Linked DNA regions of Homo sapiens. The protein of the gene in region 1 purifies or fractionates together with the protein of each later gene. This does not show direct contact. Each region holds a gene or a part of one and is shown on either strand. Other genes may lie near its edges.

What was found. The genes of interacting proteins can lie anywhere in the genome.
Region 2: the proteins of CIMAP2 (region 1) and HERC1 purify together in Homo sapiens (affinity purification with mass spectrometry; one large-scale study listed by BioGRID and IntAct). This does not show direct contact.

The regions. Positions count from the first base shown.
Region 1 is NC_000001.11:54,804,862-54,808,862, forward strand, and holds the start of CIMAP2 (ciliary microtubule-associated protein 2), read left to right. Parts: upstream 1-1,201; 5' UTR 1,202-1,255; coding exon 1,256-1,359; intron 1,360-2,134; coding exon 2,135-2,222; intron 2,223-2,664; coding exon 2,665-2,829; intron 2,830-3,027; coding exon 3,028-3,150; intron 3,151-4,001.
Region 2 is NC_000015.10:63,655,137-63,660,375, forward strand, and holds part of HERC1 (probable E3 ubiquitin-protein ligase HERC1), read right to left. Parts: intron 4,801-5,239; coding exon 4,600-4,800; intron 3,598-4,599; coding exon of another isoform or gene 3,583-3,597; coding exon 3,408-3,582; intron 1,223-3,407; coding exon 952-1,222; intron 820-951; coding exon 606-819; intron 1-605. UniProt on the Homo sapiens protein: Involved in membrane trafficking via some guanine nucleotide exchange factor (GEF) activity and its ability to bind clathrin. Acts as a GEF for Arf and Rab, by exchanging bound GDP for free GTP.

The DNA of each region.
Region 1 (4,001 bases):
AAGTGACTTGCTCAAGATCCCACGGCTGGGAAGGGCAGAGTCTGCTTAGATGACCCAGGCTTTCCGTTCTGTGCATGTTCCTGAGGCCTGCCACCTCTGACCATCAGCTCAGTGGTGCAGCGCAGACGCTCTGCCAGCAGTGGCCCGCCAGGCCTGGAGCCTAAGGGTCCAGCTCTCAGCTGTGCTGGGGAGCCACACTTCTTATCTAACTACCAGCTTGGGATGTCAGAAGGGCACTGGGTGGGGCCTGGCAGAAGACCCACTGTGCCTCTGGTCCAGGTTCACCATGGGCTGGAAGCAGGGCCTCTGGTACAACCTACGCCTCTCTGGCTTCAATCCTGTCACCATGGAATGGGGTATGGATCTCTGCCCCACCTTTGCCTAAGATCCTTGGGAAGATCACAAGCCATCGTGAGAGAAATTAGACAATCTCAGAGCATGGCTGTGGAGCACTGGTTGGGGGGTAAAGAAGGAGGGAAGAGAGAGCTGACTATGCCCTGTGTGGGGTACATACCCTCAATTCCTTTCTTTACTTGGAAAGTCATCCATATGCTTCAATGTTGAGTTTGGAATTCTCCTCCAAGAAGTCTTCCCTGACCTACCTACCCACAGGCTGGGTCAGAGGCCTCCCTCTCTCATAGACCTGACCATAGTATGTGGTCATTGCTTCCCCCATTATTTTCAGGGCAGGGACCACATCTGGGTCCCAGTCATTCTGCACTGTGTCTGCCCAGAGTGGGTGCCAGGGACGTCTAGGGGCCGGTTGAGTCCTGACTACCCCTGCAGCTTTGCCCAGCCCTCCACCCTCTGGCTCTCCTTGCCCTTTCCCCCTTACTTCTGCTCCCCTGACTCCCAAAGTGGAGAAGGAGCTGGGATGTCATTTGCCCAAGGCGGCCCTCTCTGTGGGCCTCAGTTTCCCATCAGCACAAGGTGAACTTTAAAAGGTTCTTTCTGAGCCTAGGCAGGCTCCATGCAGGGCTCTGGGATAAAGCCAGAAATCAGAAACACTTCCTCAACAAATGACTGTAAGACCCCACCCAATGGCATCCATATTAAATACAAGAAGGGCCATTACATCTGCAGGGGCCAGGGAAGGACCCTGAAAATGTGCACGGACAAGTTAAAAATCAGCGGGCTACGTGCGCACGCCGGTGGGGGCGCCACGTGGGCGAGGGCGAGGCCCACAGCTCCGGGGCGCATCACAAGGCCCGGGTTGCCGTGGCAGCAGCGGAGGCGGGCAGCGCGCAGGCCTGCCATGAGGGAAAGCCAGGATGCCGCCGGAGCTCATGGCTGGAACCGCGTCGGCTCCACGGCCACCAAGTGGTTCACCGGGGCGCCCTTCGGGGTGCAGAGCCACAGGTGGGGCCCGTTTGCGTCCTGGGCTCACGCCCACGGTCCAAAGCAGCTGCTGCCCACCCCGAAGCCACGCTTGGCCTCGGGAGAGAGGGTGTCCACCTACACACAGGGCTGAGCCTGGCGGGGAGGGGAACCAGAGGAGTGGGGGCCGGCAGTGAGGAGGGGCTGGGCTTTCTCTCCCCCTCTTGCTTAGTGCTCTTCCCTGCCCAGGGTTCTTTTACCATCTAAGTGAGTTCTTTAAAACCATTTCAAGAGCACTTACTATGTGCCAGGTTTAGAGAGGTCACATGGCCTGGTCCATAGTAGGCCACTCAGCTCAAAAGTGGTGGGTGGGATTTCAGCCCAGGTGTCTGTCTTCCATTCACTCATATTCCACTCTGTCTCTTTCTCTCTCTCACCTACTGTGTTCCAGGCACAGTTCTAGGATCTGGGGCTACAGCAGTGAACACAACAGCAAACCCCTGTACTCATGGAGTTTGCTCTCTTCTGTGGGGGGTGGGGGTGGGTAATAAACAAAAGTATGTACATCTGTAAAACCTTGGGTATTGGTAAGGACTGTGGAGAAAAATGAAGCTGGGAGGAGGAGCTGGTGGGTGGGGTGGGGTGGGGTGGGAGCAGCCTGGAACATTCAAAGCCACTGCAACTCCACTACTTTTCTTTCATGAGCTTGCTCCAAAGTCACCTTCCCGGGCAGCCAACTCCCCCATGCTCCAGAACTGCCCACGCCAGGGCCAGGTGCCAGGCACAGGGCTCTCACTGGGCCACCGTCCCTCCCTAGGTTTGACATCTCTGCTGTTTATCCCAACTGGAAGAAGTTCAGCACCTTCACTGAGGCCCCATACTCCACGCGTTATTCTACCCAAGTGGTGAGTTTGCACAGCTTCCCTGACTCCTCCCACAGGGTCTGGCCACTGCCCCTTCGAGCTGCCTGCTGTGGTGGATGAGCTGAGCTGTAGAAGGGGCGTACTTTCTACCTTCTTCCAGCACAGAGCTGGACCCACAGTGGGGGCTTCCAGTGTGTTTGATAAACGAGGGACTGCAGCACTCCCAGCTTGTGCACTGACTACCTCTGGGCTCTTGAAGGAGTTGTTATACCTTCCTGCAGTGTGAGGGGGCAGTGATAGAGGATGTCACGATTGCACCTTGAGTGCCAAGCCTGTTGGTGCCAGCCTTAGTGCTGAGGGTGGGAGCCACAGGGGGATTGCCTACTCCCTTCCTCCGGGTCAGGGTGGTGGCTTGGTGAGGGCCTGCTCTGTGGGTAGACTGGGCGGGCGTGGCTGTCACAGCTCTGACCACACTCTGACTCAGTCCCACATAGGCCCTGGGACTTACAGCTCCAAAGAGACCTGCTTCAGCAAGAAGAAGCTGATGAAGGAGGTGGACACAGGCTGGGCCAAGGCCCAGGAAGCCACGCGGCTGACCCAGCTACCCCACTTCCAGTACCAGGCCATCATGAAAGAGAAGCGGCTGAAGGTGAGGCCTCTGGGGCCATGCCTCTCCCTCTCTGGTGCCAGGTCTTCCTGTCCATTGCAGCTGCTCTGTGTGGCCTTCAGTGTCCTCCCAAGGCCAGATGGAGATTATCCTTTAAGGAACACCATCGTGCCTTGGGCTTCTTCCTGCGTGGATTTTCCCAAGTTTAAGGCTTTCATTTTCTCTCTTCTCTTGGCACAGGAGCAAAAGCTGGGCCCCGGCTCCTACAACCTCAAAGACTTCTTAGAACAGCTGCGGGAGAAACCATGTAGCACCCGGGGGCTGCTCAGCTCTGGGGAGGTTCGCTTCCGAGGACTCACTGGGGTAGGTGTTCTCATGTCTGGAGTCCCAAGCAGAGAGCCTGGCATACACTGGGTGCCCAACAAATTCATTCACTTACATATCCATCCAGCCAGCCAGCCAGGAATAAGGATTAAGCACCTCCTAAGTGGCATACACTGTCCTAGACCTTGGGGATCTAGCAGTGACGAAGACAATGTCCCTGCTCTCATGAAGTAGATGTCCTAGTGGTAGAAATAGTAGTACAAAGAAGGAAATATAATACGTATATAAGCAGGGCTATGAACACAAATTAGACAGGCAAGGGACAGGCAGTGATGGTGGTGCAATTGATAGAGAGTAGTCAGGGCTCTGGGAGGAGGTGACATTTGAGGAAACCTACAGGTCGTGAGCAACGGAGACTTGCAATGTCTGGTACAGCATTCCAGGCATTGGAAGCAGCAGAGGCTAAGGCCTTGAGGTGGGAACATGCTTGTCAAATCAGACCGGCAGGCAGGAGGCCAGTGTGGCCAGAGGGCACTGGCCGAGGGTGAGAGGAGGCGAGCGAGAGGGCAGAGGGGTGAAGGGCTGGGTCATGAGGGCCCTGCAGCCAAGGTGGGGCCTTGGTGTTATTCCAGGTGCTGCCGGGGGAGGGCAGTGGAGGGCTTTGACAGGAAGAGGACCTAACTTACCTTTTTAGAGGAAGACCTTCGAGAGGGCCAGGGTTGGGAGGAGGCGATGGTGCTGAGAGGTGGGGGTGGCAGCGCCAGGGGATGATGATCTCATCAGGAGGACACTGAGTGAGGCTGACACTCAGTAAGGGCACGAGGGAGAAAGCAGGAGTCACCCCCTACCAAGGGAGCCAGCACAGCAGTTTGTTGGCCTGGACCTCTCTG
Region 2 (5,239 bases), on another chromosome or scaffold:
CGAGGCCAGGAGTTCAAGACAAGCCTGGCCAACATGGCGAAACCCCATCTCTACTAAAAATAGAAAAATTAGCCGGGCATGGTGGCATGTGCCTGTAATCCCAGCTACTTGGGAGGCTGAGGCAGGAGAATCACTTGAGCCCAGGAGGTGGAGGTTGTACTGAGCCAAGATTGTGCCACTGCACTCCAGTTTGGGTGACAGAGTGAGACTCTGTCTCAAAAAGAAACAAAAAACAAAAGCCAGTTATCTCTTGGCTAAATGGTCCTGATGAAGAGAAAGGCAGTACTGATAAGTAGTCCCTTCAAAGTGTTATAATCTTAAAACAAAGAGAAAAATAACACTGCCTTCATCTAAATTTTATTAAAGAAACCTACCAGGATTATTATCTATGGTTAACTCAAATCATAATCTATAACTAAACTAATATGGTACATTTTCTAATCTTTGTTTCCATACACAGTGAAAAAGTATCTATGCACTTCTTTTATGTTCTAAACTTAAGAAACTCACGTCATATAATTTATCATATACTAACAATGTAAAAACATTATTTAAAAATAAGAAGTCGATTAGAAGACTGTATGTTTCAGTAGTATGAAACTTACCTTTCTTTTCAACTTCTGACTTATCATAGTTAGGTCTTAGTTTGGCCCCTTTGTCTGCTAGCAATGCCACAAGGGCCTGTGTTACAACAAAGTTTGGGGAGGTCACAAGCTTGTTCTCTTCAGCAATTCCTCGGAGAAAGCTGGGTAGAAACTTTCGCTGAATTGAGTCATCAACTGTGGTTAGATTTACACCTGTTGCAGCAGAAATCAAGTTCTGAAGAAGCAATTGGAAAAACAGACTTAATTTTTACATGTAATTTTGGAACAAAAATATTTCATTTCAAAAGGCTCAAGAATCAGTCAGAAATAATCAATGTAACGGGGAAAAGTACTGAAAGTAGCTTACCTGTGTACACAACTGTACAAGCAGTTTGGCAGCACTAGGAGCATTTGATGCCAGACATCCCACTGCTGTGCTCAAATAGGCCAGGCAAGAGATAGGCTTGTTAGCCTTGCTATGCCCACCTCGTGATCGTTCTGAGGTGCTAGCCATGGCAGAAGGGCTGGTGGAGAGGCCAGCTCTCCCTGCTGCTGCCAAGCACATTAATCGAACTAGCGTTCGGATATCTGTTAGCCCCAGAGACTCAAGACCAGCAGCCAGGCTACAACTGGAACCACTGCCAGTAAAGAAAAACATCTCAGATGGATAAAGAAAATGGATTTCTTAAGGGACCATTTGCAGTCCCACATAACATTCACAGCATCAACAACCATAATAAAATGTAAGCTGCACTATCATTAGCCATACATGTCCTAAGAGTTGCCAAAGGTATCAAGCTGGAAACTGGCATCTAAACGTTCTCTCCTTTTAATAAGTATTGGCATATACTTGAAGTACAATTGAACTGACAAAGTAAAACAGGAATGTTCACAAAGCATAAATTTTCATAAGCTGAACAAACCCATGTCACCGCCCTCCAGATCAAGAAACAGAACATTGCCAGTACCTCAGAAACCTGCTTTGGGCTTTTCTCAGTCACGATGCTCTCAGAAGTAACCACTATCCTGACTTCTAAAGCTACAAGTTAGTTTTGCCTGTTTTTGAACTTTACATCAATTGAATAATTAATATATGTACTCTTTTGTGTCTGGCTTCTTCAATATTATGTTTGTAAGATTCATCCAAATCTTGTAGCATTGAGCAGTTCGTTTTCATTGACATATACATGAAATCTGCCACAGTTCATTTATCCCTACAGATGACAATCAGGCGGTTTCCAACATGGGGCTATTATGAATAGTACTACCATGAATGATTGGTCTTTAGGGGGCACATATTTAAGTATTTCTGTTGGATATATACCCAGAAGTGGATCTCTGGGTCACAGAGTATGTTCCTGTTCAGTTTTAGTTGATACTATCGAACAGTTTTCCAAAGTGGTTATACCAATTCATTTTCTCACTAACAATGTATGGGAGTTTTAGCTGTTTCAGTCACTTTTTTCTCTCTAGTGTTTTAAATGTTTGCCATTCTTGTGGGTGTGCAATGGTATCTCATTGGTGGGTTTTTTGTCTTAGGTTTTTTTTTTTTTTTTTTTGAGACAGGGTCTCACTATGTTTCCCAGGCTGGTCTCAAACTCCTGGCTCAAGGGTTCTTCCCGTCTTGGCCTCCCAATCACACTGGATTTTAATTTTCATTTCTCTGAAGACTCACTGAGGTTGAACATCTTTTCATGTTTATTGGCCATTTGGAGATCCTCTTTTGTGAAACACTTCTTAATGTGTTTTGTCCACTTTCTTCTGGGTTGTCTTTTTCTTGTTAATTTATAGGAATTCTTTACACATTCTGTTGGTTAGATGCATTACTAATATCTTCTCCCATTCTATGGCTTGCTTTTTTACTTTCTTACTTTTCAAATCACTTTTGCTAAACAGAGGTTTTCTATTTTATTGTATTCCAATTTATCAATCTTTTATGGCAGATTCCTTTTGTGACTTGCTTGAGGAATTTTTGCTTGTCCCAAGACCAAGAAGCAATTCTTCTATGTTACCTTCAATAAACTTTATTGATTTATTTTTCTTTTATATTTAGATCTAATAGCCACTTTATAACTATTTGCTTTATATAGTTTGAGGTTGGGACCAAGGCTTTTTTTTTCTATGTGGATAAACCATCAGACCCTGCTTCAGTTACTGAAAAAAACAGCCTTTCTCTATTGCTCTACAGTGTGAACCACTGTCATAAATCAAACCATAAATCAAGTGTTTATTTATATGTATGGGTCAGTTTCTTAACTCTCTTCTGTACTATCCTATTTGCCTATCCTTGAGCCAATAGCACACAGTCTTATGGAAATTTTGTTTTTCTTTCAGGATCTTTCTGCCTTCACTGATTTGCCATTAAATACTCCTGCTTAATCACTTCTTAAACAGCTGTCTTTTAGGTATTTCTGGTTCTCATCCCCTTTTTACATTACACTCCACAGTATCAACACGGCAAGGATCCCCATGATGGCATCTGCAGGCTGACTTAGCTACACAGACGGTCAATACATTTTGACCTTTAGTTTTTGATCCAGCACCATTGGGATCAACAGCCTTAGTTTCCCATTTCAAGCAACAAAATAAAATGTATGCAGTTTACTCAGTTGTGATAATGGCATTATTTTCTACCTAAAAAGAGCCAAGTATTAACTGAATGACCGATTGAGTGAATAACAATGACTACGTCTAACATCTTTCATTCAACAGTACATATTCAAGCTTCTAAAATTCTATCTCACCCTCCCAAACACCACCAGACTTCCAGCTAATGTACACTAGAAGTTAACTTAGCATCATGTGACATAAAATAACACTTACCTGACTGAGAGAAGAGACAGCGCTCTCATGACCATGGTTCTGGCCAGAAGAACCTGAGCAGCAGCAGTCACTCTCCTTAAAGCCACCACACGGTCATGAGGGTTTGCTAGGGCAGCTGCCTGCTCTCCTAACGTTATTCTCCCAGAGGAGCTCTTTTCTACGGAGCCATGGCAACCTGAAAAACATAATTCTGTTTTGTTCTCAACAAGGTAAGAAAAAAATACATCTGAACTACTAAAAACATTTCCTATTCTACAGAGGTTCCATAACAAACCAATGTCTTTTGCTCATCTGGAACTTGGTTATACAGAAAATTTCTTAGGAGAAACTCACATATTTCTAAGTTTGAACTTGGATATTTCTAACTTAGATATTTCTATGTTAACAATGTATTTACCATAGGAGTATTTATACTTAATTTACCAGTAAGTATTTTCTGTTTTGTTCATTTTGCCCATGTATCACATCTACTGATTATAAGTGCTTTGAGAATTTATAAAGGACTGAATTACCAATACTGCCCAATTCTTTATTTTGTATTCCCTATACCAAAAATTTACCACACCCTCTCACCCAAATAAAAAGAAGACTGCACAATAATTTTAAGTTGGTTACAGGATTCTCTTAACACCAAGTTTTTTTTTAAATAACAAGTTCTATAAATCTTTTTATTGCTTCGGTATCATGAAAGACAAAAAAAAATCAAAACATTTATTTTTTCCTCTTGAGACAGGGTCTGGTTCTGTCACCCAGGCTGGAGTGCAGTGGCTCAATCATCACTCACCATAACCTCAAACTCCTGGGATTAAACAATTTTTCTGCCTCAGCCTCCTGAGTAGCTGGGACTAAAGGTGCACACCACCCACCCAGCTACTTTTCTTCATTTTTTTAATAGAAATGGGTCTCACCATGTTGCCCAGCCTGGTCTTGAACTGCTGGCCTCAAGCGACCTTCTTTCTTCAGCCTTCCAAAGTGCTGGGATTACGAGCATAAGCCACCAAGCCCAGCCAAAACTTAATACCACATTATACCTTCAAAATGTTAAAACAACTGGCTAAAGAGACTTGTTGGGGTGAGATAATGTTGAACCATTAGTCTTATTTACTTTTACTTTATTATTATTATTTACCTATCTAAGAAACAAATTATAGTAGATGCTATAAAATCAATGCAAATCAGGATTTCAGTTTACCTATTTGCATCAGAGTCTCTTCCATACTGTTGGTGGCTGTGACCATTGCTACTGATGCTCCCAGTGGATCGCTGTCAGGGAACTGAACTGGTTCTGGTACAATGCGCCGGTCATTTAAACCAAGCGGTCCAGCAAGTAATTCAAATTCTTCTTCACCAGTTAGCTTTTCATCTTCATCAACATCCAACATGTCCCAGTCTTCTGGAATTTAAATAAATAAATGTATAGTATGTGAATTTAAATATTACATAAATCTGCTGGCAATGGTTGTTCTGAAAATACATCTAAAATGCAGATGAGCAGCCAGATGCGATGGCTCACGCCTGTAATCCCAACACTCTGGGAGGCCGAGGCGACTGGATCACATGAGGTCAGGAATTTGAGACCAGCCTGGCCAACATGATGAAACCCCATCCCCACCAAAAAATACAAAAATTAGCCAGGCATGGTGGTGTGTGCCTGTAATCCCAGCTACTCAGGAGGCTGAGACCGGAGAATTGCTTGAACCTGGGAGGCCGTGGCTGCAGTAAGCTGAGATCACGCCACAGCACTACAGCCTGGACAACAGAGTGAGACTCCATCTCAAAGAAATAAAAACAATAAATAAATAAATAAATACATACATACATAAAATGCAGAT